Homo sapiens: one gene and its partners. The protein of the gene in region 6 purifies or fractionates together with the protein of the main gene of each other region. This does not show direct contact. Each region holds a gene or a part of one and is shown on either strand. Other genes may lie near its edges.

The links.
Region 1: the proteins of SMARCA4 (region 6) and BAZ1B fractionate together in Homo sapiens (co-fractionation; 3 studies listed by BioGRID, with this or other methods). This does not show direct contact.
Region 2: the proteins of SMARCA4 (region 6) and CREB1 purify together in Homo sapiens (affinity purification with western blotting; 3 studies listed by BioGRID, with this or other methods). This does not show direct contact.
Region 3: the proteins of SMARCA4 (region 6) and TOP2A purify together in Homo sapiens (affinity purification with western blotting; 3 studies listed by BioGRID and IntAct, with this or other methods). This does not show direct contact.
Region 4: the proteins of SMARCA4 (region 6) and MYEF2 purify together in Homo sapiens (affinity purification with western blotting; 3 studies listed by BioGRID, with this or other methods). This does not show direct contact.
Region 5: the proteins of SMARCA4 (region 6) and ATF3 purify together in Homo sapiens (affinity purification with western blotting; 2 studies listed by BioGRID). This does not show direct contact.
Region 7: the proteins of SMARCA4 (region 6) and TOP2B fractionate together in Homo sapiens (co-fractionation; 3 studies listed by BioGRID, with this or other methods). This does not show direct contact.

What each region holds. Positions count from the first base shown.
Region 1 is NC_000007.14:73,470,146-73,474,342, forward strand, and holds part of BAZ1B (tyrosine-protein kinase BAZ1B), read right to left. Parts: intron 339-4,197; coding exon 200-338; intron 1-199. UniProt on the Homo sapiens protein: Atypical tyrosine-protein kinase that plays a central role in chromatin remodeling and acts as a transcription regulator. Involved in DNA damage response by phosphorylating 'Tyr-142' of histone H2AX (H2AXY142ph).
Region 2 is NC_000002.12:207,602,666-207,606,889, reverse strand, and holds the end of CREB1 (cyclic AMP-responsive element-binding protein 1), read right to left. Parts: 3' UTR 902-4,224; downstream 1-901.
Region 3 is NC_000017.11:40,403,995-40,408,191, forward strand, and holds part of TOP2A (DNA topoisomerase 2-alpha), read right to left. Parts: intron 4,131-4,197; coding exon 3,973-4,130; intron 3,681-3,972; coding exon 3,555-3,680; intron 2,949-3,554; coding exon 2,838-2,948; intron 2,696-2,837; coding exon 2,590-2,695; intron 2,500-2,589; coding exon 2,390-2,499; intron 890-2,389; coding exon 797-889; intron 498-796; coding exon 383-497; intron 280-382; coding exon 158-279; intron 1-157. UniProt on the Homo sapiens protein: Key decatenating enzyme that alters DNA topology by binding to two double-stranded DNA molecules, generating a double-stranded break in one of the strands, passing the intact strand through the broken strand, and religating the broken strand.
Region 4 is NC_000015.10:48,168,117-48,172,313, forward strand, and holds part of MYEF2 (myelin expression factor 2), read right to left. Parts: intron 724-4,197; coding exon 515-723; intron 1-514. UniProt on the Homo sapiens protein: Transcriptional repressor of the myelin basic protein gene (MBP). Binds to the proximal MB1 element 5'-TTGTCC-3' of the MBP promoter. Its binding to MB1 and function are inhibited by PURA.
Region 5 is NC_000001.11:212,611,398-212,615,594, forward strand, and holds part of ATF3 (cyclic AMP-dependent transcription factor ATF-3), read left to right. Parts: intron 1-3,620; 5' UTR 3,621-3,624; coding exon 3,625-3,864; intron 3,865-4,197.
Region 6 is NC_000019.10:11,026,875-11,031,071, reverse strand, and holds part of SMARCA4 (SWI/SNF-related matrix-associated actin-dependent regulator of chromatin subfamily A member 4), read right to left. Parts: intron 3,289-4,197; coding exon 3,122-3,288; intron 343-3,121; coding exon 179-342; intron 1-178. UniProt on the Homo sapiens protein: ATPase involved in transcriptional activation and repression of select genes by chromatin remodeling (alteration of DNA-nucleosome topology).
Region 7 is NC_000003.12:25,630,088-25,634,284, forward strand, and holds part of TOP2B (DNA topoisomerase 2-beta), read right to left. Parts: intron 3,928-4,197; coding exon 3,754-3,927; intron 2,708-3,753; coding exon 2,606-2,707; intron 2,497-2,605; coding exon 2,359-2,496; intron 853-2,358; coding exon 714-852; intron 383-713; coding exon 225-382; intron 68-224; coding exon 1-67. UniProt on the Homo sapiens protein: Key decatenating enzyme that alters DNA topology by binding to two double-stranded DNA molecules, generating a double-stranded break in one of the strands, passing the intact strand through the broken strand, and religating the broken strand.

The DNA of each region.
Region 1 (4,197 bases), on a different chromosome or scaffold from region 6:
GGCAGGAATATGTCTTACTTAACTTTGCAACTCTAGCATTTGGCAGTTAATATTCAATAATCATCAACAATTCTGTTTCCAAAAAGAATTGGAAAACTGAAGAGAGAAGCTTGTCTATTCTTGTACTTTAGAAAATTTTCCTAACTAATAGCAATGTAAATAGTCCTAAAGAAAACAAAAATTTGGTTTAGGAACTGACCTATTATGGTTTCGATCTGTGCCAATAGGAGTCCTGCGCATGACTAGTTTGGCCTTGGCAATCCCTTCCTGGAAAGCTTTCTCAGCAGCTGCTTTGTGCTTCCGTATTCGTTCTTCTTCAGCTTGGCGTTCCAGTTTCACTGTTAAAAATAAAAAGACTCAAATCAGATATTTTCCTAGTAAATCCCACTCTTACAAATTAAATAAAATATGGAGTAAAAAGTGCCTAGTATACAGTAGTTATCAAATCTTAGTTTGCTTTCTCTAATTCTAATCTGTTACAAGAAATTACATGTAAGGCAGCAACATCTAGTCCTCCTACACTCCTTGAATTTGTGGTGACATCTCATCCCTCAACTCAATGCAAAATCTTTTATCTCCAAAATATCACTTCTTTTTGTTTTTGTTTTGAGGCAGAGTCTTGCTCTGTCACCCAGGGTGGAGTGCAGTGGTGCGATCTCGGCTCACTGCAACCTCTGCCTCCTGGGTTCAAGCAATTCTCCCGCCTCAGCCTCCTGTGTCGCTGGACTACAGGCACACACCACCGTGTCCAGCTAATTTTTACATTTTTAGTAGAGACGGGGTTTCCCCATGTTGTCCAGGCTGGTCTCGAACTCCTGACCTCAACTGATCCACCCGTCTCGGCCCCTCAAAGTGCTGGGATTATAGGCGTGAGCCACCACACCCAGCCAAAATATCACTTCTTAATATATTTTAAACAATCCTGAAGAAACAGTTAACAGTCCATAAATAGGACTAACTGAAACATCTTCTGACAGGTGCACCTACAGGATCCTCAAAAAGATCACGATAAATCAAACTAGTAAAATAACTATTTCAAAATAAAACATATTTCAGTCCTGAGGAATCTGACAGTAATTTGGCTTAATAGCCCTGATGACAAGAAAACAAACCTGAAAAGCAACAGCAGGGACGCACTTGTGGATAATAATTATTTTACATTGAACACCTATTTTTCTAATTATTCTGCAAGTTACTGTTAATGATAAAAATTTTATTTCTGATCATTCATTAATTAGGTTTATTCAGTTAGAAATTTCCCTCAACAAAAGCAGCCCGCTAATTTTGTTAAGTTTTTCCATAATTGTCACAAACCTTGACACCATAGGGTACATGGCAATGCTATTTACAATGTCACAATTTTTAAGAAGTGTTTATTATTTTTTTAGAGATAGGGTCTTACTATGTTTGCCCAAGCTGGTCTCAAACTTCTGGGCTCAAGCGATCCTCCTGCCTCGGCCTCTCAAAATGCTGGGATTAGAGATGTGAGCCACTGCACTCAGCCCCAATAATTTTTAACCCTGATTGTCTATTGACAATAACATCTACAATAAGATGTAAATCTGGAAAATGCATCTGTCTAAAGATGTTACTTTAAAAACTTAAGATAAATTCCATTTATTTAAAACATGGAATTTGTTACCTTTGATAAACAGTTTTCTAGCCCAAGTGAAACTGTGTATTTGTAACAATGGTTATAGTAGAAAATAGCACAAAGGTAAATGATTAAAAAAAAAAAAAAGCGAGAGAGTGAGTGATGGCCCAATTACAATCAAGGAAAAGTTCAGTCTCCCAAGACTACAAACAAACATAAACCAACTTAGGACAAGTCACCAAAGGAAGACCAAATTCTGTCTCAGAGGTTACAGCACTGAACTAGTTATCCAAAGACCTGAACTCTAATCCAAATACTGATCTTGGTAAAACACTAATATTCTGTCTCTTGTTTCCATACAAATAACAGAGTATCATCTTCTTTTCCTTCTCTTAAGATAAATATAAAACACAGTGGAGCAGTCCAAAAATGCAAGAAGAAATTATTACGTTTCAGATAAAATAGAGCTGAAGGTTTTAACCTACATTCTGCTTCATCTGGAACACAGTTATACTTTTTTTTTTTTTCTTTTTTTTGAGACAGAGTTTCTCTCGTGTTGTCCAGGCTGGAGTGCAATGGTATGATCTCGCCTCACCGCAACCTCCGCCTGCCGGGTTCAAGTGATTCTCCTGCCTCAGTCTACCGAGTAGCTGGGATTACAGGCATGTGTCACCACGCCCGGCTAATTTTGTATTTTTAGTAGAGACAAGGTTTCTTCATGTTGGTCAGGCTGGTCTTGAACTCCCAACCTCAGGTGATCCGCCCACCTCAGCCTCCCCAAGTGCTGGGATTGTAGGTGTTGAGCCACTGCGCCCGGCCGCAGTTATACTTTCTTGATAGGTATTGTTTTGTTTTGAGACGGAGTCTCACCCTGTCACCCAGTCTGGAGTGCAACGGCATGATCTCGGCTCACTGCAACCTCTGCCTCCCAGGTTCAAGCGATTCTCCTGCCGCAGCCTCCCAAGTAGCTGGGATTACAGGCGTGTGCCACCACAGCCAGCTAATTTATTTATTTATTTATTTATTTATTTATTTTGAGATGGAGTCTCGCTCTATCATCAGGCTGGAGTGCAGTGGTGTGATCTCGGCTCTCTGCAACCTCCAACTCCCTGGTTCAAGCGATTATCCTGTCTCAGCTTCCCGAGTAGCTGGAATTATAGGCCGAGTAGCTGGAATTACAGGCACCACCACACCCAGCTGATCTTTTTTTTTTTTTAAAAAAGACAAGAGTCTCGCTCTGTCCCCCAGGCTGGAGTACGGTGGCCGATCTTGGCTCACTGCAACCTCAGACTCCCTGGTTCAAGCAATTCTCCTGCCTCAGCATCCTGAGTAGCTGGGATTACAGGCATGCGCCACCATGCCAGGCTAATTTTTGTATTTTTAGTAGAGACAGGGTTTCACCGTGTTGGCCAGAATGGTCTTGATCTCCTGACCTCGTGATCTGCCTGCCTCAGCCTCCCGAAGTGTAGGATTACAGGCTGTGAGCCACCGAGCCTGGCCTGTTCATATGTCTTTAAAATGTTAATACAATGGCCAGGGGCGGTGGCTCATGCCTTTAATCCCAGCAATTTGGCAAGTTGAGGCAGGCAGTTCATTTGAGGTCAGAGTTTTGGGACCAGCCTAACCAACATGGTGAATCCCCATCTCTACTAAAAATACAAAAATTAGCTGAGTGTGGTAGCAGATGCCTTGTTATCCCAGCTACTCAGGAGGCTGAGGCACGAGAATAGCTTGAACCTGGGAGGTGGAGGTTGCAGTGAGCCAGATCGCACCATTGCACTCCAGCCTGAGCGACAGAGCGACGCTCTGTATCCAAAAAAATAAATAAAATGGAAAGTACACATTACATATGTATACTCAGGCACAGTATGCATACATATGCAAAAATATTTCAATGGCCTTAAGTAGTGTAAACTAAAATTTGTTTTAAAAGGAATATACATTTTCTAATGAAAGAACTATTCAAGCCGGGGTTTGGTGGCTCAGGCCTGTAATCCCAGCACTTTAGGAGGCTGAAGCAGGAAGATTGCTTGAGTTTAGGGGTTCAATACCAGCCTCCACAAATAATAAAAAGATTAGCCAGGCGTGCTGACACATGCCTGTAAGTCCCAGCTGCTCGGGAGGCCGAAGTGGGAGGACCACTTGAGCCCAAGAGGTCAAGGCTGCAGTGAGCTGAGATCACACTGCTGCACTCCAGCTTGGGTGACAGAATGAGACCTTGTCTCAAAATAAAATAAAAAAGAAAATGTTGAAAAAGAACAAGCTGGAAGATCAACACTTCCCTATTCCGAAACTTACTACAAAGCAAAGTTATCAAGACAGTGTGGCTTTTACATAAAGACAGACATACAGATCAGTGAAATAGAATTCAGAGTCCAGAAATAAGCCAACGTATCCTACAGTCATATGATTTTTGACAAGCGTATCAAGGCCATTCAATGGGGAAAGGTTTGTCATTTCAAAAAACGGCACTAGGACAACTGGAGAGCCACATGCAAAAAAAAATAAAGCTGGACTTTTACCTTACACTATAAAAATTAGCTGAAAATAAAAGACCTAAATTTCAGAGGCAAAACTATTAAGACATTTGGAAGAAAACAGGA
Region 2 (4,224 bases), on a different chromosome or scaffold from region 6:
TCACCTCCAATAATAATACCATTTAATTGCTATTTATGGGAAGCATTTACTGCCAATTCTTTAAAAATGAACAAAAATAAAATTTTAAAGTACTTTAAAAAATCACTATATAATGTACCCCAGTACTGTTAAGTGGCCCTAGATATAGGACTTCACTTAATAGTTGGTAAAACAGACTTGTAATTTGTGTTAGTGTTAGACGAAGTCACAACCTCACTGCTCCCCAGAACCTCTACCTAGAGAGAAGTAGCTTTCTCAAGGTCTTTAACATGAATTGGTAAGTACAGTGAGTATAGAGAACCCTCCTCTGGGAAGCTGGAAACTTGTACTATCTTAGCACTGACATAAACAGCATGACACCGGACAGTCCTTAGCTCTGTTTTACCTTAAAACTTGAAGTTTTTTTTGAGACGGGAGCCTTGCTCTGTCGCCCAGGCTGGAGTGCAATGGCGCAATCTCGGCTCACTGCAACCTCCGCCTCCTGGGTTCAAGTGATTCTCCTGCCTCAGCCTCCCGAGTAGCTGGGATTACAGGCGCCTGCCACCATGCCTGGCTAATTTTTGTATTTTTTAGTAGAGATGAGGTTTCACCATGTTGGTCAGGCTGGTCTCGAACTCCTGACCTCAGGTGATCTGCCCTCCTCTGCCTCGGCCTCCCAAAGTGATGGGATTACAGGCGTGAGCCACCCGCACCCCGGCCCAACTTGAAGATTTAATTGTTAGCTTTCTGCTCTAAAATCATGTTACACCTTTCCTTCTACAACCAGAGGGGTTAAAAATTTAGTAACACTAGAAAAGATGGCATATTGAAAACTTGTTTCTTTGCTAAGAACAGTTATTTCTGAGGATATTAGAAAGAAAACAGTATTAACAGAGATGAGAAAAGGAAAGCCTTATGAAAGTCTGTGCCACTTCTAATTTTAATTCCAGAAAAAAATGCCTAGACTGTAAAGTTTGACATAAAAATAGTAATCAACATAAGTTAATAAAAATTGCTTAGCAGATACCTAATAATCATTAGGAAACAATATCCAAATATGAAGAAAACCATAATTCAGAAATAACTTTTACTTCTCAGTATCCTGGAGATACAACTTGTGTAGACCTAGTTACCAACCTCTGTATATCTGTAACAGTAAAAAATTTCAAACAGCCAAATGTCCCCAGAAGAGGACTGGTTAAACTGTATCTGTACAATGGCAGCAGTTTATAAACCACTGTTTGTACCTACCTTTTGTGTAAAAAAAGGGAGAGGGAGGAGGAGAGAACATACATTATATTTGTGTATATATGCACAGACTGTCACAAAAAACATAACACAAAAAACTTCTTACAGTTTGCCCTTTTCCATGTTTCTTTTTTTTAGAAGTGTACATATTACATAAAGTAAGTTTGAAAACAATGAGGACATTATAAAGCAAAAACTTATAGGCGAAAATATTATAAGGGCCTAGTACCCAGAATATATAAGGAACTCAGAACCCAACAACAAAATTTCAATGAACAAAGGACCTCAACAGACATTTCTTCAAAGAAGATACGCAGATGGCCAAAGACAACAAAAGATGCTCCACATCATTAGTAATCAGGGAAATGCAAATCAAAACCACAATGAGAGACCACACCCATGAGGATGGCTATAATTTTTAAAATGGCAAAATAAGTGTTGGTGAAGGTGTGGAGAAATTGGAACCCTCATACATCAATGGTGGAAGGTAAAACGGTACAGCTGCTGAGGGAAAGTTTGACAGTTCCTCAAAAAGTTAAATGTGCGATTTCAACATGACCCAGCAACTCCACTCCCAGGCATATACCCCAAATAATTGAAAACACGGACTCAAATACTTGTACACGAACATTCATAACAGCACTATGAACATTAGCCAAACAGTAGAAACAACTCAACTGGATGAATCGATAAACTTGTGGTATATATCTACAATGGCATACTTACTATAAAAAGTATACTTAGCTATAAAAAGGAATGAAGTAGTGATAACATGTTACAATGGATCAACCTCAACAACACATTAAAGCTAGACGAAAGAAGTAATACACAGTGTATGAGTCTCACATGAAATACCCGGATGTAAATCCAAAGAAACAGGAAGCAGATTGGTGGTTGCCAGGGACAAGGGCGGTGGGAGGAGAAAATGGAGAGTAACGGGACTTTACTTTTGGAGTGATGAGAATGTTTTGGAGCTAGATAGAAGTGGTGGTTGTACACCATTGTGGATGTACTACCACTTAATTGTTCACTTAAAAAGTTAATTTATGTGAATTGCATCTTAATTAAAAACAAGGATAACATTCCAACTCCTGGACATTATCCTTCCTTTCCATTTGATGTCAGGCCCGTGTTAGAATTCTCATCCGGTTTGGTCACTGCACTTAAGAAAGATGTGGAGAAATTAGGACGCACAGTTAAGAAGAAGGATAACACTGATTAAGGTAGTGCTTTTCTAGGTTTCCCCTAAACAATTTAACAGATGGATAGTGGCACCACTTACGAGATGGAAAAACCAGCGGAAGGAAGATTTGGGGGAGAAGTTAAGTTTGTCTTGGGCCTGTGTTTTGCAACCTGAGTGTAAAAGACATATGTTAAGTCTTCAGTGGCGAAACACTAAAACTAGAAATGGATCAGAATTTTATCTTTGGATGTGACTTCTCAAGGATGGTCTTGTCACTTCAGTGCCTGGTCAAATGACAAGATGGGCAATCTTTTCCTGAAGGTCCAAGCACCTGAACGTGGCAGGGTGACCCGATTCCGATTTGCTTAGAACAATCCTAGTTCATGCCTATTGTCCCTCATGTAATTAATATCACTCTCAAAATGTCTCATTTTGTGCAATAAATTCTGTAATCGTTGTTGCAGAAAATAAATGAAATTCATTAAGCCTTCCAATACAATGGCAGGTATAGCAGGCTTGAACACATCTTGGCAGTGAAGAAACATACAAATAATGCAGCTGCTTATTTTCAGATGTCTCGTCTCAGAACTTATTTCAGAAGTTAATAGTATAGGAGATAACTTTTTTATTCTTACAGCTTAAGCAAAGATTAACCATATCCCCTCCCCTTTCCTTCCAATTTATATGATCACAGAGTTTTAGAATTGCAAGGGGACCTGAGAAGGTATATAGTCTTATTGTCCTTTCAGTGAACACGTGTTTTATGACATCAGACACAGCTGGTCGTATGTCTCCATTAGTCATCTTGACAGTAACATCTCCAAATCCACAAATAGGCACTGTTCAATCTTATTGAAAAACAGGTTTTGTCCTGAAAATTAGGGATCCAGTAACTGAAGACATGTTGTTGTCTGAATTAGTTTTGCTGCCTTCCAACACAAGCTTGTAATATATTGTAACTTTAAGTCCAATAAAACATGGCTTCACACTACTAGCAAAAAAAACCCAACAAAATATAGAGATCCCATCCCCAAAAAAGAGACTTACAGAGTTTTTAAAAGCATGTTTATGTGACTGCACATAAATGTTTGTGTAAAAAGAGCATTATGACAGTTGATACCACAAAGATTACAGTAAGAAAAAGCACTTTATGACAATATTTCACAAATTCACAAGGATCACTTTAATATACAAAGCAACTGCTACTATTCTGAACACAAAGCAGCTATTATGTACATAGTGTTAATAAAATGCATTGTAACTCAGTACATTTTTTTCTTTACACATAAAGCACAAAAAGATTTAGATAAAAAAATTAAAACAGGGATGTTTCTAGAATGTAGGGAATTTTATTAGAAATGTATTTCCCTCATTATAGTTATTTATTTAGTATTCAACTCCAATAGAAACATCAGAGTTAAAAATCAATACCCTGTTTTGTGCTGACAGTTGTGGGGGAAGTCTTCTTTACCCCAACCCTCAAAAACCAAAAAGCCAAACACCTTTCTAGGAACTTCCCTGATTATTTTGCTTCTAAAAAGTTTCAAGTGATACATCTGGGTTAGAAATAATTCCTTTTGCAGGGAGTGGGGGAGTTACAACTGACATGTGGACAAATCAGTCAAGGACAACTTTACATGGAAAACTGCTAACTAGCACTCTTCTTTGCCACCCCTAATAAATCTATACTCAAAAAAAATGTTGACAATTATTTCCCACTTTTAATATAAATAATTTTATTACATACACAAATTGGAGTGGCACTTGGATAAAAATACATCTATAAAGCATTTACCAATTTTAAAAACATAAGA
Region 3 (4,197 bases), on a different chromosome or scaffold from region 6:
AAATCAAAGGGCAAGCAGTTTTATTCTTTCACAGGTTTTACCAACTTGTTCTTTACTATGAATATATGAGCTTATACTTTCACCAAATCTGTTTTGAGAATGACTCTGCAGGGATTTCTGATATAATGCTTTCTGGAAACATGGATTGTGTGTTTACCTCACCATGATGATAAGAAGACATTTCAGCCACTGATCCAGCTAATTGGGCAACCTTTACTTCTCGCTTGTCATTCCGTTTGAAGCAAGTAAACAAAACCTTTCTCTGACCTGGTTTCAAACCTTTAAAATGAAATAAGAGCAAACGTAAGTATCCTCAATTTAACCAATTTTGGAATTTGATTTCCATCTTACAATGAAAACAGACTAACAAATTGGAACTCACCATCCACCATAGAAGGGATAGATCTCTCGTTATCAGAATTTGAGAACAAGATAAGTTCCTTGTTGATGAAGTCATTATATGTCAGATATGTGGTAGTTTGTCCATACAAGTAATCCTGAAGGACCAAATAGTATTACATGAGTCTACCGGTCTAAACAATGCTCAACACAAAAATCAAACAGAAACCTTTCAGAACTAAGAATTATTTCTGTAATTCTTAAGTCTTTAAAAAATATTGAATAATACAGAAATATTTTATATGTTTTAAAGATAAAGCAAATTTAACTGCTGCACAACTCTATCATATCAAATTTTTTACTAAAATAACTATTCAGTAAGTTTAATTTGCTATAGTATCAATACCAAAAGGTCAGTCTAACAATCCATTTTGTGGCATATATTTAAAACTTTTACCTCAGGAAGCCCAAGTAACTTTCGTTGTCTTCTATCCTCCATGAAATTAGTTAACCATTCCTTTCGATCATCTATCTGTTTTTTGCTAAAGGCCTATAAATTAAAGGATGAAAAGATGTCACTGGTACTAATAGGCTAATAGGTTCCAAAATATCCTTCTACAAAGAACGAACAACAGAAAAACAAAAATACTGTTTTCCTTTTTTTTTTTTTTTGAGACGGGAGTTACTGTTCTCTTGCCCAGCCTGGAGTGCAATGGTGTCATCTTGGCTCACTGCAACCTCTGCGTCCTAGGTTCAAGCGATTCTCCTGCCTCAGCCTCCTGAGCCCCTGGGATTAAAGGCGCCCGCCACCACGCCCAGCTAATTTTTGTATTTTTTTTTTTTTGAAATGGAGTTTCACTCTTGTGGAATGTGATGGCACGATTTCGGCTCCCACAACCTCCACTTCCCAAGTTCAAGTGATTCTCCTGCCTCAGCCTCCCGTGTAGCTGGGATTACAGGCACGTGCCACCACACCCAGCTAATATTTTGTATTTTTAGTAGAGATGGGGTTTCACCATGTTGGTCAGGCTGGTCTTGAACTCCCGAGCTCAGGTGATCCACCCGCCTCGGCCTCCCAAAGTGCTATGATTACTGGTGTGAGCCACTGCGCCCGACCTTTTTTGTTTTTTTTTTTTTTTGAGACAGAGTCTCGCTCTGTCGCCCAGGCTGGAGTGCAGTGGCACCATCTCAGCTCACTGCAAGCTCCGCCTCCTGGGTTCACGCCATTCTCCTGCCTCAGCCTCCGGAGTAGCTGGGATTACAGGCGCGTGTCACCAAGCCCGGCTAATTTTTTATTTTTTATTTTTTTTTATTTTTAGTAGAGACGGGGTTTCACCGTGTTAGCCAGGATGGTCTCCATCTCATGACGTTGTGATCTGCCCGACTTAGCCTTCCAAAGTACTGGCATTACAGGCGTGAGCCACCACGCCTGGCCTTTTTCCTTTTTTTTTGAGATGGAGTCTCACTCTGTTGCCCAGGCTGGAGAGCAGTGGCCTGATCTCGGCTCACTGCAACCTCTGCCTCTCGGGTTCAAGCGATTCTCCTGCCTCAGCTTCCCAAGTAGCTGGGACTATAGCTGCGTGCCACCACGGCCGGCTAATTTTTTGTATTTTTAGCAGAGATGGGGTTTCACCTTGTTAGCCAGGATGGTCTTGATCTCCTGACCTTGTGATCTGCTCGCCTCTGCCTCCCAAAGTGCTGGGATTACAGGCGTGAGCCACTACGCTCGGCCAATTTTCGTATTTTTAGTAGAGAGGGGGTTTCACCATGTTGGACAGGTTGGTCTCCAACTCTTGATCTCAGGTGATCCACCTGCCTTGGCCTCCCAAAGTCCTAGAATTATAGGCATGAGCCACCAAGCCCAGCCAAAAATCAAAATTTTCTAAAATATCTGATTCCTTCTCTGGGATATGCTTACTGGAAACATTCTATTCTATAAAACATTCTTTTTTTTTTGATACGGAGTCTTATACAAAAATGTAAATGTTTCAACTGGCTAAAGTAGTGATTTCTAAAATTAGAATGTATATAAAATACAACTCAAACCTACCAGGCTGATAGCAGCATCATCTTCAGGACCAGAATATTTGAACTGGATACGATGTCTTTTCATATCTGCAAAGTATTCTTTAGCTTCCTTTGATGTGCTGGTGCCCAAACCTATAAAACCAAAAATACCAAGTTCCTTCATATAGTCTTGTACAGGGTGTATAATAAAATGAGAAGTTCTATATGGGTTTCATTACAAACCTTTGTAATATTTGACTTTCCATTTTTTATGATTTGGAGTAGAACTCTTCCACTCTTCAAATTCAGGAAGGCTGTAAAATGCCATTTCTTGCTTGTTTTTAGATACCTGTGATAAAAAACAATGACTGTGGCTTTGTACACTGTGGGGTCCCCTGTATACCACTACATGTGACGGGGCTTATATGTATATCCAGGTTTGAGGAGTAGGGTCTTAAAATATCCATGATGGTACTTAGAAATTAGCGTACCTTTACAATGGGAGTGATAAATTCCTCCAGAAAACGATGTCGCAGAAGAGAGGGCCAGTTGTGATGGATAAAATTAATCAGCAAGCCTTTGATGTGGGAACCATCTTGGTCCTAGAAAGATTTGAAAGCCAAAGTTCAAAAGAACTGTTAGGCTGGGCGTGGTAGCTAACATCTGTAATCCCAGAACTTTGGGAGGCCGAGGCAGGCGGATCGCCTGAGGTCAGGCGTTCGAGACCAGCCTGGCCAACATGGTGAAACCCTGTCTCCACTAAAAATACAAAAATTAGTTGGGTGTGGTGGCATCCGCCTGCAATCCCAGCTACTCGGGAGGCTGAGGCAGGAGAATCGCTTGAACCCATGAGGCGGAGGTTGCAGTGAGCCAAGATTGCACCATTGCACTCCAGCCTGGGCGACAAGGGCGAAACTCCATCTCAAACAAACAAAGAATTGTTTAGAAATAAAAAAATATTATGACTGACCTACTGGCAATTTGTCAAATTTTCTATGGGAATCAAAAAAGGTCTGTTCAAATCCAGACTCACTTAACCTGTATTTGCAACATACATATGATATAAGCATATCTGATTAGATGTTGATTAGAGATGATGAATAAAGCTCCTATTTAACTAATTTATTTTCATGGCAAAAAACAATGAAATTAAATTAAGACATGCTTAATTTAGTTGAACAATCTAAAAATTTAATAACAAATCTGACCTGATCTGTCATAATCATTATCTTCCCATAACGAAGCGTCTTCAATGAATCTTCATCTTCATAGTTTTTCTTGTACTGAAGACCCACAATCTTGATGATATTGTTAATCTCAGCATTTTCCATGATCTGAAATGGACATATACCAAAAAAAGCATCGTTTATAAATTTGAAAAGAACAAAGAAATTTAACAGTATATGTTGCTTGGATTTTCTTGAGCTCCAGTATTTTGAGCTATTAGCTTATAATTTACTACATCAGAAAGGTCTGTTAAAATAGGCTACAATGTACCTAATTTCTCAAAATAAGCACAAATTGTCTAAAATATATTTTAAAATGCCTAATGAGGGAATTAAATATAAGCATAAAGTCTTGTATTATAAATTAGATTTAGATTCTGAAGATCGTCTTATATTCTACCTGCTTATGAGAAGCTTCTCGAACATTGAGTATTTTTCCTCTAAGAGGGAAAACCCCATATTTGTCTCTCCCAACCACACCAAGGCCTGAAACAGCCAAAGTTTTGGCTGAATCTCCCTCAGTCAGGATAAGCGTACACTCAGTGGAGTTTCGGCCCCCTAAAATAAAAATATACATATTAATATTAGCACATTTAGTTCAACCTCAAATATACTAACTTGAACA
Region 4 (4,197 bases), on a different chromosome or scaffold from region 6:
TGAAAACAAAACTGCAACAGCAGTAATGCAATTTTAATTTAGAACTGCAAAGACAGCATCATGGCAGTCATGACAATGCAAACAAAATAAATTCCACAGCCAGATTCCAGACTCCACCAAGATAGTAACAAAACAGCTTTTGGAAAAAAAATAAATAATCAGACCTTATTATTCATTCTTAACACGCTAAATGTATTGCTTAACTAATGCAATAGCCCTTTTAAAATCTATAAAAACTTCAACTAGACAAAGCAATCACTTTAACAAAATTCTTGGTGGCATGCATATGCTGGCTCGCTACTATCCCACTAAAATGGCAAAAAGAAAAATATCCATACTACCTTGTAATGAAATTGTGTCAAGAGAAAGAAGAGGAAAAGATTAATTCACATGTCAAGAAATAAAAATCAATTTTTTGAGTCTGTGTGGCTCAGAGGAATAAAAATGTTTGTGTAGTTCCCTCCCCTGCCTATATGAAGATTATCCAACAGTGGGTTATTTCAGAGATAGTTACCTTTCTCTCTCATTAGATCTTTAATAGCTTGCCATTTCATGTCATATGGGATGTTGCTAATGAAAACTCTGTTACGATTTGGACCCTTCTTTTCTCCAGCGCCCGAATTCTTGTCTTTTGAATAAGGATGAAATCTATTGGCCTTCTTACTTCCTGTAGATTTTTCCTTTAAGTCAGATTTCTCTTCTTTTGCTGATTCATCATTCTCCCTGTGAATTAAAAAAAGTCAAACAAACAAAAACCCTCAGTTGTGCTTATAAGAATGGAAGTCTATATTAAATAAGTATTCCATATTTATCACCTCACAAAACTCTCCACTAAGCTAGACCTCAGCAAAGTAGCTGGAGAATCAGCCTGAGAGCTTTGAAATTACCCAATGCTATTTCAAAGCAAGGATTTGGTTTCTCATTTAACAGTCCTCATTTTTTTCCCACATTAAATAGTTGTAAGCATCCAAACAATCACCCAGTTTTTCCCATCACACTACTTAATTAATAAATGCTATTAGACTGGAACAGAGGGAAGAGCAGATAATTTTACTTCTAAGGTATCTAAAACTGCCACCTTTGATGGAGAATTAACTTTCTGGGCATCATTAAAAACTTTTTTAAAAACTAACTTACACAGTGATACTCTGAAAAAGTTCATCTCTTAAAGGTTAATAGTTTCTTCTCAGAACTTTCTCCTCCCTTAATTAGAAGCATAATTAAAATACAAAGTTATGTATATAAATCCACATCTATATATGAATATACTCACATTAAGACTCTCAAACTTTCTTCTATTCCCAATTTTGATCAACACAGAAAACTTATAAAGTATCCTAATATTTTATGTTACATTTTAACCTATAAACTAGAATAGGGTACTTCATCAAATTATGCAGTTTCATTAATATTACCTACAATGGGTAATGTAGGACAGAAGCAGTACATAAAAGCAACGTAAGCCAAAATTTTATAAACCTGATTTTTTTTTTTTTTTTGAGACGGAGTTTTGCTCTGTCACCCAGGCTGGAGTGCAGTGGTGCAATCTCGACTCACTGCAACCTCCGCCTCCCAGGTCCAAGCAATTCTCTGCCTTAGCCTCCTGAGCAGCTGGGATTACAGGTGCCCACCACCATGCCCAGCTAATTTTTTGTATTTTTAGTAGAGACGGGGTTTCATCATCTTGGCCAGGCTGATCTTGAACTCCTGACCTCGTGATCCACTCACCTCGCCTCCCAAAGTGCTGGGATTACAGGCGTGAGCCACCACGCCTGGCCAAACCTGATTTTTAATGAGGCCTTAACTAGAAAAAAAAGTAATTTATAATACCGTAATCACAATGCAACTCTATGATGTCATATGCCAACCATCCAAAAGATGTAGGCATACACTTAAACCCTACAGATAAAAATTTGGATTTCTATTTTAAAATGCAATTTACTTTTCAAAACAAGTCTTTTTTACAGCACAAACAATAGGGTTTTTTGTGGGGGTTTTTGTTGCTGTTGTTGTTGTTGTTGTTGTTTGAGATACAGTCTCATTCTGTCACCCAGGCTGGAGTACAGTGGCAAGATCTCGGCTCACTGCAATCTCCGCCTCCTGGGTTCAAGGAATTCTCCTTCCTCAGCCTCCCAAGTAGCTGGAATTACAGGTGTCTGCCACTACACCCAGCTAATTTTTGTATTTTTAGTAGAGACAGGGTTTCACCATGTTGGCCAGGCTGGTCTCAAACTCCTGACCTCTGGTGATCCACCCGCCTCGGCCTCCCAAAGTGCTGGGATTACAGGTGTGAGCCACCGTGCCCGGCCAATAGATTTCTTATTTAAATAAGTGCTCTAGTCAATTTAAAACTATTTTAATAACAAAACTTCAATTTTAAAGCAATTTTTCACAAACATTACTAATAATATCACTGTGGATGACACCCAGGAATCTAAATTTTTTTTAAAGCTTTCTGGATTATTCTGACAACAAACCAAGTTTCATGAGCCAGGCTCTAAATTATCTTCTAAGCCCAGCAATTCTGGTGATCCACACATTGCAATGCTCCACACACCTCTAACTGCAGTCATTTGTTACATAATATATACAGAGCTTCTTGAACACTACTCTTCTTTGTAGGTAACACAGCCATAAATATAGTATGTAAACTCTATGAGAACAAAAACTATCTGCTTTGGTATCAGCAGCACCTCGCACGGTGACTGCATATAACATTGTGCTATAATTTTTTAATGAATTAACAGTCAATTAAGAATCCATACTCATCTGAGCACAGATGTTGCCAGAAAAACTGCTAGAATAAAGAAAGAGACATTTGGACCAAACTTGCTTTGCCATTTTTTTTAGACCTTAAAAAGGACATCTTCACTATCAAACATATTCCTTCATCAGAAATGGCATGGCCTAGGGGGGAGTCTTCTCAACTGTCTAAATCTAGAAAGTACCTACCTGTCTAAACAGAGTGACACTTTTGAAAATGGCAGCAAGCAGCCAAAAGGCACAAAGGCCTTTTCTCTGGTTTCTGAGTACCGCAGATAGAAGAACAAACCTTTCTTTTCAATTCCCAAAGGGCCTGTTTACATAATAGGCTTAGATGAATTCAGTGAATGTTTGTAAAGTAACTAAGACTCTATTCAGTAAGCAGATATCTATATAGTCTCTAGATTAATACCCCTTCCCCTGCCTATTTTCTTCCTGGATTAAACCAATTGTGAAAATTACACAAAGTTCTGAAGTACTTACAATGTTCTATTCTTGACTTAGGTGGGGTTACATAGATTAAATATTTGCTTACAACAATCTGAAAATTCCATTAAAAACAGTAACATTATATATAATATTTTCTTTAAAATATTTACTCAAAGATGATCAGAGAAAGTAAATTTCTTCATTTTTCCCCCATAAGAAGCATCTTAAAAATACTGCTAAACTGCTCATCTATGATGTAGAATTAAAATTTATCTTAAGTTTCTTCCCAGTGTATAACAAAAAAAGAAAAAAAACTATAAAAGGCATAACAGTTGAGAGGCTACAGGGATGATCTAATTATTAAGAAACTGAGCCATAATTATATAATTTCTGAACTATTTCCAAGTCATAAATACTTTGGAAGAGAAAGTAAAAATATATGTGAAAACTCTTAAGGAAATGATGCTACATAATTCCAAAATATTGGTACTACATCCAGAATTCCAAGTACTAAATTCCCAAACTGTTCATTTAGACAACCACTCCCACAATGTACTTAAAATAAAAACCCTAAAATAGTCATAAAAATGTTATCTATTCTTAAAATTGAACTATGCGTATCTAAATTATAACATACATTTCTGAAAAAAATCAAGCTCCAACATCAAAAGAAGAAACATAGTTTTAATGTGTGATTTTAAAAGTATAATGGTGTAGTATGAGATCCAATATTAATCCCAGTTCCAGAGGAAAACTACCAGAGGGCAGTTCAGAGCAGTAAATGTCTACATTAAGAAAAACGACCTCCAGGCCAGGTGCAGTGGCTCACATCTGTAATCCCGGCACTTTGGGAGGCCAAGGCAGGTGGGTGACTTGAGGTCAGGAGTTCGAGATGAACCTGGCCAACATGGTGAAACCCCGTCTCTACTAAAAATACAAAAATTAGCCAGACGTAGTGATGCATGCCTGTAATCCCAGCTGCTTGGGAGGCTGAGGCAGGAGATT
Region 5 (4,197 bases), on a different chromosome or scaffold from region 6:
GTATGTAAATCTCATATGTCCTTCTCAACAGCCCTTTGGGGAAGGCAGTTTTGATCTCAAATTACAGAGGAAGAGAATGAGAGGCCCAGAAAGCCTAAGTGATTTGTTGGTGGATGCTCAGCTTATGAGTGGCACTGATAGGCTTAGAAACATTGTCTCTGGCCCTTGATGCCCAGCTTTGCACCTCTTCAAGAGGTCTGGGAGGAAGACCAAGATATGAAGAGTTAGTGAAAGGCCAGTACTGGCTTCCTAGTAACATAAGATGGTTAGCAAGCAATGCTTAGTGGAAAGAGGATGAAAATTAAAAGTGAAAATTCAATGTAGCTGTAGCTACTAGGAAATAAAAATCTGGGAGCTGAATTTCCAGTTAAAGGAATACATGAGTAAACTTTCACTTTCTTGAAAATGATGAAACTGCCAATGATACAACATGATTTCTGATTGGAAATAATCAAGCAGAAACAAAATGCAAGTTCTTGGTAGCAAGTCTGAACAATTTTATGATCAGCATAGAAAGTCAACTCTGATCTGAGGTCCCCAAACAATTTTTTTCAATGACCGGGATGTTTGAGGATCTCAACTTTCTGAAAAATTGTGTGAAGATTTAACTTCATTTCCTTGTGGGGACACAGCCGTAGTCTAGGCTGAATCATACCTCGAGAGACTGAGTAAAGGAATAACTAGAAAGTATCCCGAGAAGTTAAGCTTTAGCCTAGTGCCGAGAAAACCCAAATCTCGACAGATACATCTGTTTTATTTTCTGAAAGGCTTTTAACATTTTTACAACCATTTATGTCCCCAAGGAAGCCCACCCAATGCTTTTCATAAAAGCATTCCATACCACTGACATTCTTCAGCTTCTTTCATTGGGACTGCTGACTTTACATAAGAAGAAGGGTAGGGGGCGGGAGTCATAAACAGCAGACCCCAAGCCCTGAGAGCTCATTAATAAACCTAGTTGGATGGCAAAATGGAACTACACTCTACTGCAGTGGAATTCAAAGTCCCCGTGTAGAAGGGAGCCATCCAGGCCTCCAAACAAAGACCAGCCCAGTGGCAGCTCTGAATGTCATCCCCGAATCACTGAGTTTTTAATAAACTTGGAAAGGGAAGGGAAACATGAATGCATGGGAGAATCTTAAGCCTCTGGCTTTAGAAGGCTAGTTTCTCAGAGTTTATTGCCTGACAGCGACAAGTATCCTCCCAGCATCCTAAGATTATAGGATTAAATTGAGAGAAGAACTTCAGTTCTGACTCATGACACAGGGCTTTGGGAAAAGAATTACATACATAGCCTGGGTTTCTTTGACTAGTCAAGGGCAGATTTCATTGGCCTGGAAGTCTTGCCTCCATTGGTGTATGTTAGATCTCCAGGGGGAGTTTGAAGTCAGGGTATTCTATTCAGAAGCCTTTGAGATCAAAGTGGGTGACCAGCTGCCCTCCTTCCTGGACTCCACAGAGCCTCTGTCAGAGAGCCAGCCCTGGGCTGGAGAGATCTCTGGGAGGCCTAGTAATCATGGAGCTCCTGGCCAAAGAATGTTTTCCAGGGCATATTCATGTATTAGTTCCTCAATTCCTCATAGGATATTATGGGAAAATAGGGCGATTATTACAAGCCCTCTTTAACAGAGGAGAAAAAGCCACGGGGAGGTACAATGATAACACATAATGGAGTAAGTGGGCTTCAAATCTTCATCTTCTGACCTCAGTCTGGGAATTTTGTGGATAAGAGACCCACTTGCTCACACTCCCAGAAGGCAGTTAGCAAGCAGCCTGGGTATGCACCGTGACATAAAGATTAGCAGTTCATTAAACAGAGTTCAGTTTATCCCGAGGAATCTTTACTTAGCCTCCCCTCTATCACTTCATTTCCAGGCCTCCCACCTACCTTAAGGCCTGCCCCGAGAAAATTTGCTCTGGTTTTTTGTTTGTTTGTGCAATATAACATAATGCTTGTTTGTTTTTGTAATGTAGAATAATATTTGTTTGTTTTTTGCAATGTACAAATTAAGGGCATGAATCCTGGAGCCAAACTAACTTAATTCCAAATCCTGATGCTGCCCCATATTAATTCTGTGAATTCGGGCAAATGACTTAGTTTGTCTAAACCTCAATTATCTCATCTATAAAAGGCAGCTAGATCTTAACTCACTGGGTTCTCGTGAGGATTAAATGAGATAGTGCCCCTAAGGTTTCTGGTATGAAGGAGGCACTCCTTAAATGTTCGAGACTTGCCAGAGGGCTTCTTCTCTGTCTGGACTGTGCTAATGACCACAGATCCCCGGTTGAGAGGAATGCCCAGACCACACTCATCCTACACTCATCCCTATACTCATTGTCCCTTGGGAACCAACTGCAGGGAGGAGGGGAAATGGCCACCACTGGAGGGAGTACACAGCAGGCCAAGACTTATGGGGGACTCTTCCAAATTGGGGCCATGGAACTGTCACTATTTCTACTCTTTATTTTCCTTTTGTCATCCTTTTGGGTTCACCGAGCTATAGAATAACAGAGGGAGATGAATTTAGCAAATACATCACTGAAGCTTCTCCCTCGGAAGTTGGGCCCAAGCAATGGGAATGAGAAAGGTAACCTTGGACCGTGGGGGCCATTTGATTTGATGACCCCATCCCCACTTCATTTATCAGTTGGCCAATGAGGCATGGCGAGTCAGGCATTGGGCCAGGCTCTGGGTAAAGCAATGGTGGAGACTCAATGCTTGCATTGGAGGAGCTGTCAGTCATTTACCAGACACAGACTGGGTCCTAGAGAGCTGAAATTACTAGCTCAAGTCACTGCTGTTTAGTGCCAGAGCCAGCCCCAGGGTTCCCTGCCCCCACACCCAGCCTAAGTCTATCCCTATACCACAGGCCTGAACAACTCCCCCACAATACAGTGCCTCACTTTTCTTTAAGACCTTTTGCTTTGCCAACCTTAACCTTAAGAATCCACCTCCCCATCCCCTGCCAAAGACTGGGGTGAAGAAACGCACCTGGCTACAGTTACCTTTCTCATTCCCATTGCTTGGGCCCAACTTCGGGGGAGAAGCTTCAGAGATGTATTTGCTAAATTCAAGGATTCCCCACTTTTTGCTTTTACTTCCACTCACTGATAGTTTCAGCTTGACGTCAAGCCTCTTTGAAAAAGAGGCTTTTTTTTTTAAGTGAAAGAAACTTTATTTTGAGTAATATACAAAAAAAAAAAAAGAGAGAGAGAGAGAAAGAAAAAGAAGCTGAAAATGAGATTACTCATGATTTTTAAAATGGCCTCACTGATTTTTAAAAAATGTTCTTCCTCTTTCAGGACTGTTTGTGGCCACATTTGCACATAGGCACACCAGCCAAAACTCATAGATCTTGTGAATTCAGAGTAGCCTGAAACATCATCCCTTATAAATTTCAAATAGGCATTTTGTTCATGTCACTGAGCTATGTGTATTTTAAGAACCTGCTTTACTTAAGATGAGGATGGCATGAAATGAAAACAAAACAGAAACCCAAGGGCTTATGGGACTTTTCTCTGAGGGTGGGGCTCTGGTGTTGGAGGTCTGGTGGGGGAGGGGGACTTGATCCCATGCCCCAGAGCCCCTGAAACAGTTTGGGTTTCAATGTGTCTTTCAGCAAAATGATGCTTCAACACCCAGGCCAGGTCTCTGCCTCGGAAGTGAGTGCTTCTGCCATCGTCCCCTGCCTGTCCCCTCCTGGGTCACTGGTGTTTGAGGATTTTGCTAACCTGACGCCCTTTGTCAAGGAAGAGCTGAGGTTTGCCATCCAGAACAAGCACCTCTGCCACCGGATGTCCTCTGCGCTGGAATCAGTCACTGTCAGCGACAGACCCCTCGGGGTGTCCATCACAAAAGCCGAGGTGGGTTCTATCACAGGTATTCATTCTTTCGGCACATGTTTCGCTCGCAGCCACTGTGTGTTGGGCATGTTCTAGGCAGGGGGCTGTTGTTGAGAGTGAAACAAACAAAACCACTGCCCTCAGGGAGCTTACCTTCTCCTGGGAGGAGACAGAAGTACATAACATACGTAAGTACACGTTAAGAGATGAGTGCAAAGGAGAAAAAAGCAGGGAGCGGGGCAGAGAGAACGGGTAGGGATGGGGTTGCTGGGTTTAAAAACTTTTCAGGCCAGGCATGGTGGCCCACGCTTATAATCCCAGCACTTTGAGAGGCCAAGATGGGATTATCGCTTG
Region 6 (4,197 bases):
AGGACCCCGCCTCTTTTCTCCCTGATGACCTATGGAGATATGGGTGCAGCTCCTCCCGGCTCCTGGGGTCCAAGACAATGTGGAGGAGGCTGGAGGACCCTCAAGCCAGGGCCGTCTCCTCGAGGTTTTGCAGGCACCCCCTTCCTTCTCCTCGACCTGGGGCCCGGCCCGCTTTTACCTGGTGAGGATTCCAGTCGCTGTCAAAAATGATCACAGTGTCTGCCGACTGGAGGTTCAGGCCGAGCCCCCCAGCCCGGGTGCTGAGCAGGAAGATGAAGTACTCAGAGCCGGGCTCGTTGAAGGTTTTCAGCAGCATGCCCCGGTCCTCCGCCTTCGTGGTTCCTGACGGGCACAGAGGAGAACAGGGTCAGCGGGGTGACCTCAGGGGTAGAGTGGGGACACCAAGGAACACCTGCTTCTGAGAGCAGGAGCAGGATCAGCACCTGCCAGCATCCCCAGATCCCTGGCTCCGCACTCTCCACACGGGCCTGTGGGCCACTGGCGAATAACTGGATTTCCAGTGTTTCACCACAAAACGTCTCTCCACACATCCCAGAAATGAAAACAGGCCCCGCTGGGAGAACTAGAGGAGGTGGGCCTGGAGCACAGAGTCCAGCACCCAGCCCACAGCTAGGCCACAGCGTCCAGCGTCAGCACAGCCACCACCACCACAGCCCTGGATTCTCTCCTCTACTCTACCCTGTGCCATTCCATGGGGAGCGGAAGACACAGCGGCCAATGCCGGCAACACCGCCGCTCGCAACACAAGGGACCTGGGGGTGGGTGGACAGTGACTGTGGGTGCACCTGCCTTCAGCCCTGTCTCAAAAAGTTTTGTGGTTCACAAAGAGAATCTTCTACGGTAAAAGCATGGAGACCTTATAAAGGGGGCTCGTGTCCTTTCTGGCAGGATCAGTGTCCCCATGCCCCAGAAAACCCAAGTCAAGGAGCCAGAGCAGGTCTCCTGGGTGACAACCCACGATGCCCTCAGCGTTGTGGGCATTAAGGCAATGTCAACACTCCCTGCGCTGCTGGGAGTTCGGACAGAGGTGCCCCTGAACACTGAAGTCATTTTGGTGATGAAATAAAAACTGGCAGGCCGGGCGCGGTGACTCATGCCTGTAATCCCAACACTTTGGGAGGCTGAGGTGGGTGGATCGCCTGAGGACAGGAGTTCGAGACCAGCCTGGCCAACATGGTGAAACCCCGTCTCTACTAAAAATACAAGAAAATTAGCTGGGCGTAGTGGCGGGCGCCTGTAATCCCAGATACCAGGGAGGATGAGGCAGGAGAATCGCTTGAATCCAGGCGGCGGAGGTTGCAGTGAGCTGAGATCATGCCACTGCACTCCAGCCTGGGCAACAAGAGTGAAACTCCGTCTCAAAAAAAAGAAGAAATAAAAACTGGCCATTTCCTGCCACCAGCCTACACATGCCCAGGCACGGTGCAGAAGCCCACAGTAGCCTGGCCATCCACCTGCCGTCCCACCCTCTCTCAGGCACCAGATGTGCCCCTGCTACTCCAGCTCGGAGGAGGGGCTGAGGTGAGGGGCCACCCGGCTCCCAGATGCCAGCCCACCCATGGGAGATGCAGTCTCAGGAGACTTCACTGAGCTCCTACCCTTCCTCTACTCGCAATGGATTCTCTGGCCCTGTGGCCATGACCACATCACATGCAGAGGACACATCTGTAGTTCAACTGACCAAAGTCCTTGTCCTTATGGAGTAGGCAGAAGGGCACTGGGATGGGTGGGAACCAGGCTCTCTCCTGGGGGAGTCAGGGACACGACACAGACGGGATGGCCCTCAGGAAGCCTTGGCCCTCTCGAGGACGGGAGAAGCCGCTGGAGAGACCGTAGGAGAGGAAAGGGTGGGGGGTGGCCCGGCCATGAGGACCCTGAAGGATTTTGGTTTTCAGCCTCAAAGCTGAAAGTGGGAAGCCCCCAAGGAAGAAGGCAAGCCGGGGAGACCCCTGCAACAGACTCGTGTCTGTAGAGTGGTCCTGGACAGAACCCCGGGGAGGACCTGCAGTTTGGAGGGACACACAGGGCACACTCCGGGTGGCACCTGGGCAGGTTGGCCCAGCAAACACAGGTCCAAGTGATCAACGGGACAAGGGGTATGGAGGTCTGGGGTGTCCTGCTGTGAGACAGACCTTGCACAGGAGCTTCAACAAAGGCTCTGGGAGGTCGTGTAGGGAACAACAAACTGGCTGAGCCGTGTCTGTCTCAGCAGCTCATGCTCGTGTTTCTCGTAAGCCCAGTTCTAGTAACTCCCACGAAGAACTCACTCCAGGGCTCCCTGACCCACTGGGACTGACAGACATGTCTCACGTGCCCTGTCGGCATCTCACAGCCTCTCCTCCCTGAGCTCCCGTGTGCTGGGGCAGGCAGGCGCAGAAACACAGGCGGTGACCTTTCCCATCAGGGACCGCAGGGCAGGGGGTTGGGCTGAGAGCCTCTCTACGGCAGCTGCTGCTCCTGCCTGGCAGTGCTTGCTTCCCTCCCTCCGTGCTCACCACAGAGTCTGATTCCAGGTCCAGGCCTGACCTGTGGCAAGGTGGCAGTCACTGGGCTGCTACGAATGGCCCAGGGATGGGCATGCGGCTCACAGCAGCTAAATGAGAGCCAGCCTGGGACCTGCCTTTGTTGGGGACACTGAGCAGGTGGAAAGGAAGCCAAGATGGAAGAAGGCAGAGCAAAGAGCTGGAGAAAAGTCTCTCCAATATCACCTGCATGCCTGGATCCAGCTGTGCCTGAAGGATGTTTAACCTCCTGGGGTTAGAGCTATGTAAGCCTATTGGTGCTTTCTTTCCTGTGTCCACATGGTATGGAATTCTGTCACTTCCAGCTAAAAGTGCACAGGGCACCCCTTCCCCAGTGCGCCCAGCATTGTCGTGGAAAGACTGTCAGCCTAGGAGTCAGGACACCCGGCGTCCAATCCACGGCCTGTCCCAGTGCCGAGTGCCCAAGATGCTCAGCCTGTGGCTAGGCCCACTCTGGCCACTGGACCCAGAGCGCCTGGGCCTCACCCTGCCTCACAGGAGGGAATGCCAGTGAGGAGCTTCTGTGGCAGCCACAACAACAAAACCCTGTAAGAAACGCCTCACTGGCTCATACTCACCATCAAGCCTGAGGTATTTAAAGCCGCGATACGCAAAGTAATCTTCCATGATGGTCATGAGGGAGGTCATTTGGCAGAACAGCAGCACTTTGTGGTTGGTTGCTCGGAGTTTGGGAAGAATTCTATCAAGAAGCTCAAATTTACCCGAGGCTCGGTACAGGTCCAGCCTGGAGTGTGGAGGAGGCAGGAGAGAAGGCGCAGGATGTTAAACCTGGAACCCTGCAGGCAGGTAAGGCAGGAGGTGCATCGCCCGCCTCCAGGCCAGGCGCCGGGTTCAAGGGCACAGACATGCATCCTAAGCAGACGTCACCCACCCAAAGCTTCAGCAAAGCCATTTCCCCCAACTGAAATAAGCCCGGCCACCCTCGCTGGGGAGGCGTATCACCAGGGTGGCACATGTATTTCTCGTCAAACCCAGACACTCATGAAAATGAGAGGAGCTGTGAGTCACATGGCCGGCACAACACGGGGCTGGAACAGGGATGCTCCGGGAAGCCAGACCTTGTCCCCTTGCCCGATAAAGAAGCCCCAGGAGCAAATGCCACACTGGAGACACCCATGCTCTGCTAGACCCAGAAGGAAGGGCCACCTCGGCTTCTCATGTTCTCTCCAGCCAAACCCCAAGTGTTGTAGATGTGGACACTGAGGCTGGCAGGGGGACGACGTGATATGGCTGACCACATGTCCAAGCCAGGCCTCCCAGCCTTGAAGCCAGGTGTACAGGACCCTGTTCCACAACTCAGTATAAAAAAACACATCAAAAAGAATTTGTGATGTTTTCATTAGGCGCCTCTCTTCTTGCAAATGGCTTACTACCCCAGGGGAATTGAATGGAGGCTTTAGCTGGAAGAATGCTTTTAGCAAGGTTCTTTGCAATGGTGAAAATCTAGACACAGCATCCACATCCATTAGGGGCTTAAAGGAGTCTGGGCTGCCCCTTACAAAGGGTGCTATAGAAAACACCCACATGATGTAAAGAGTGCCTCTGTACTAGTGAGCAGAGTTTAGGCTCAGAGAGGTTAAGAAAGCTGTCTAGAGTCACAGAGCTTGGAGGCGGCAGAGTGGGATCTGTAAGC
Region 7 (4,197 bases), on a different chromosome or scaffold from region 6:
CGTAACTTTTCTTATATTGTAGACCAACTATTTTAATAATATTATTTATTTCAGCATTTTCCATGATCTGTTCAAAAAGGAAAAGCACTGAGAGTAGTTTGAAGTGTTGAAATATACGAGTCAGAAATTACATTTAAAAATTCGAGAAGTTTAGTAAAGTATTAGAAATGTCATATGTATGTGTGCATGTGTGTATACACATATATATACACACACATACATACCTGTTTATGAGAAGCTTCCCGTACATTAAGAATTTTGCCCCTGAGTGGAAAAACTCCGTATCTGTCTCGTCCAATCACACCTAATCCAGACACAGCCAGTGATTTGGCAGAGTCTCCCTCTGTTAATATCAGTGTACACTCCAGGGAATGTTTACCACCTGAGAGAAATTTAAAATTATACATAGTAAAAATTTCTCATACTTTCACTGATGAGAAAAATGAAGTCAGAAAATTAACATTAGAATGCTGACAGTGAAAGACTATAAAAGTTATTTTACATTATTGCTCAGTATAAATATTAAGTATATTTTATTAAATTCCTATCCCCTGAAAATTAGTAATATGTTGTGTATGTGATAATTTCAATGAAGTAAAATCATACTCTGAATGGAAAATCATAGTCTAACTATATGTAGAAAATAAAAAAATTCTGTAACTAAATAAAAGTGAAACTTAAATCAAAATCTTATTTAAAAATATCAATCTTACCAGCATCATTAGCATCATCCAGTTTGGGAATACCTTTGATTTTACTGTATTTTACTGATGAACACTTCTTATTCAGCTGAGTCTGAGCCTTAAATTTCACCCAGTTCAGGATACTTTCTACAATGCCACAATTAGAGGCCTAAAAATAAAAGAATAATGGTATACAAACAAGCTGAAAATTCATACATTTAGCTAAAATGTATAGGGCCTAATGCAAGACCTGGAATCTGTGCAATTTTAAGGTATTTTAGGGCAAAACAATAATGGTGATAAGCATCATGATACATGCTAATCAGCTTTTACTCAACTACTGTAAAATTAAAGCTAAAATATAAATACATGAAAAAGGATAACTTTTACATATGAGAAACATTCTATTATAATAAACTCCATGAGGAATATGCATTGCTCTTGTTACAAATTAATTTTATTAAAATTAACACAGTGAAAACAGATCCACACATGAACCTACTAGCCGGCAAATTCCAGACGTTGACATTTCTGATATCCTTCAATACAAAACGTGAGTCTTTAATTCACTATGACAAAAAGTATTAACCTAAAAGGAACATTAGGATAACCTTGGTAACTTATGAATAGACTTTTATTCTTTAAATAGCTTGGTAATAAAGATTTCAACATTACATATTGTTTGTACTCTGCAGTGAATCAATCTGTGGCAAGATGTTAACCCAGACAGAAAAAGGAAAAGAAAGTTAAGCATCTCCAACTCTAAGTCCTAAAAGTTTTTTTATCATCCTCGGTGATTTGATGTTAGGTGTATAAAACAGTTTTCTGGAATGTTTAAGACATAAACAAAAGAGGTGAACTGTGTTGTCAAATTTAAACTTAGTGCACCTAAAATGAAAAAGTATAAAATTTAAAATCAAATCACTTCATCAAGGAAACAATTGTTATGAGGACAGAAATTTGGGAAAGCATTAATATAGCATAATTTGTACTCAGAATTCATTAAGATTAGATCCAAAAGTACTATTTCTACAGGCCTTAAGTTAGAACCTAAAAAACAACTTTTGTTTTTGTTTCTGATAATCTACTTTTTGGAATTTGAGAAATACATTAGTTCTAGGGCAGTTATAGAGCATTTCCCCACCAAAATTCCAAAGAGGAGAGGCTGTGATTGATTCATCTCCATTATTTATTTGTGCTCTCACCTTATTTTAGAGAAGTTAAGGTAGCCTAAAAAAATTATGTGCAAAGCAAAGCAATTTAAGAACATGTAGAAAATAGTACATTTTGTTATACATGTTACCACAATTTTTAAACATGTATAAAGATAAGAATCAGTAGATCAAGTTGAAATGAGAGTAGAAAAGATGAAAGAGTTGCATAAGGATCTGGACATCTGTTAGGGGAAATCTGACCTTTACAATGGTCAATACAAAGCTAAAAATGCAATTAGTTACATAATTCCCTACTTTAGTTCTTGGCAAAACAATTGTTTTAGGAAACATTAAAGTCTACCCTTTAAAGTTATCAAATTAAGCATATTAGTTTGTAGTGCAAGCATGCTTATACCCACAGTTAATACGATGAAAGAAACTAATCACAAATAAAGTAAATCAAGAAAACTACCTAATCAACTCTTAATAACAACAATAAAAAAAATACAAGTTTTACTCACTGCTTTAAAAAATTTTTCTGACAGCTGGCATTTAGACCCAAAACTTTTGGGCTGCAGAGTCATGTTTTCCTTAGTCTGAGAATCAAAAGTTGGATTTTCAATAAGGCAATTAATAAAAACCCATATATGGTTTTTTACCTGTTGAAAACATACCCAAAAAAGTCAATATCAGAGCTGATATTTAGTAATTCAGTATATATATAATGCATATGTATGCATCATGTACAATATATAACACATCCCTTACTTGAAATGGTTTCACTGATACACCAGCTTTGTTCTTTTTCTTAACTACTTCAATCAGTTTACCAACAACTTGATCTACCACATAATCCACGTGCCGTCCACCCTAAAGAAAAAAAAATATATGAAATCTGAAATCCTGTATTGTTAAAGTAGCAAAATACTTTATCTGTATTATAAACCCTATTTTCTAAAAGAGTAATAGAGTCTCAGAACGAGAGTTGAGATTTTAAAAAAATAAGACATTTTGGCTACAGAGCCAATAAACCAACCGCTGTGTTTTTTTTGTTTGTTTGTTTGTTTGCTTTCCTCACTTCAATTCTAACACCAATTCTCAGGTGCTTTCAACACCAGCAACCAATTCTCTGATTCTCCAGACACCAAATGGATGTTCAACAATGTAATTCAATTTTGATACTAACTACCTGGAGTTAGCACAAGTATTTAGGGTTGGTTAAGGGCTCAATCCCACAGGACTCCCCACACTTCAGATGCCAGTTACAAGTCCTAGGCCTCCTGTACTTCTAACGAACCTATGACCCACTCCTCAGGAATGATAATTTGCTGGAACAGGTCACAGAACTCAAGAACACACTTTACTTCATTTACAAGTTTTTTATATAGGATCCAGCAATAATAGCCAAATGGAAGAGATGCATAGGGCATAGTACAGGGGAAAGGGTACACAAAGCTCCATGCCTTACCCAGACATGCCACCCTCTTGGCACCTCAAATGTATTCACCAACCTAGGAGTTCTGTGAACTCCATTGTTCAGGAGTTTTTACAGAGCTTTATCACATAGCCATAATTGATTTTTAACTCAGTCACCAGCCCCCTCTCCTCTCCCCAGAGGTTGGGGAAGGTGGGGCTAAAAGTTACAGAAAAAGGAATTTGTTATTCTAAATTTCATAAAATATAAATATGTTCAACTACAAACACTAGTCATATAAATTTATTTCTCAATAATTGTTTAAATAAATTTTAATACAGCAATTTCATAGAAAATAGGTTTTTGTTTTCATAAGTCAATTCTTATTTAACAAAAACAGATTTGGGTTTTTTGGGGGTTGTGGATATTGTTATTTGTTTTGTAGTTTTTATTGAAGTACTGTTCTACCACTGACTTGGAAACAAATAATTTGCTTACTTACTTTTGTAGTTGCAATACTATTTACAAAGCTGATTTGCTGGAATCCTTTTTCACTCAATGTGAGACAAACATCCCATCTTTCATTTGCAAGCTCATGAATAACTTTCAGGGCCACCCCAGTTTCATCCAATTTGTCTTTCACATAAAGATCTACATAACTGCGAAATCCATTTACCTATTAATTTAAAAAACAAAAACAATTAAAAATCTTACACTGGCAGCTCAAATAGGTGAATCACCTTCAGTACGTATACTTTCATTTCCTCTCACTTACAACAGTTCTAAGTGCACCGATCCAAACCTTAGTGGCATTTCCCAGATCTATTCCTTAACCCTTGACCTTTAAAAAAGAAATTCATTTCTATGTGTACTTGACAAAAAGAGGATGTGAAGGGACAGGTAAATTGTTATAAAATATTTCAGAAATTTCTATTTTTAAAATGAT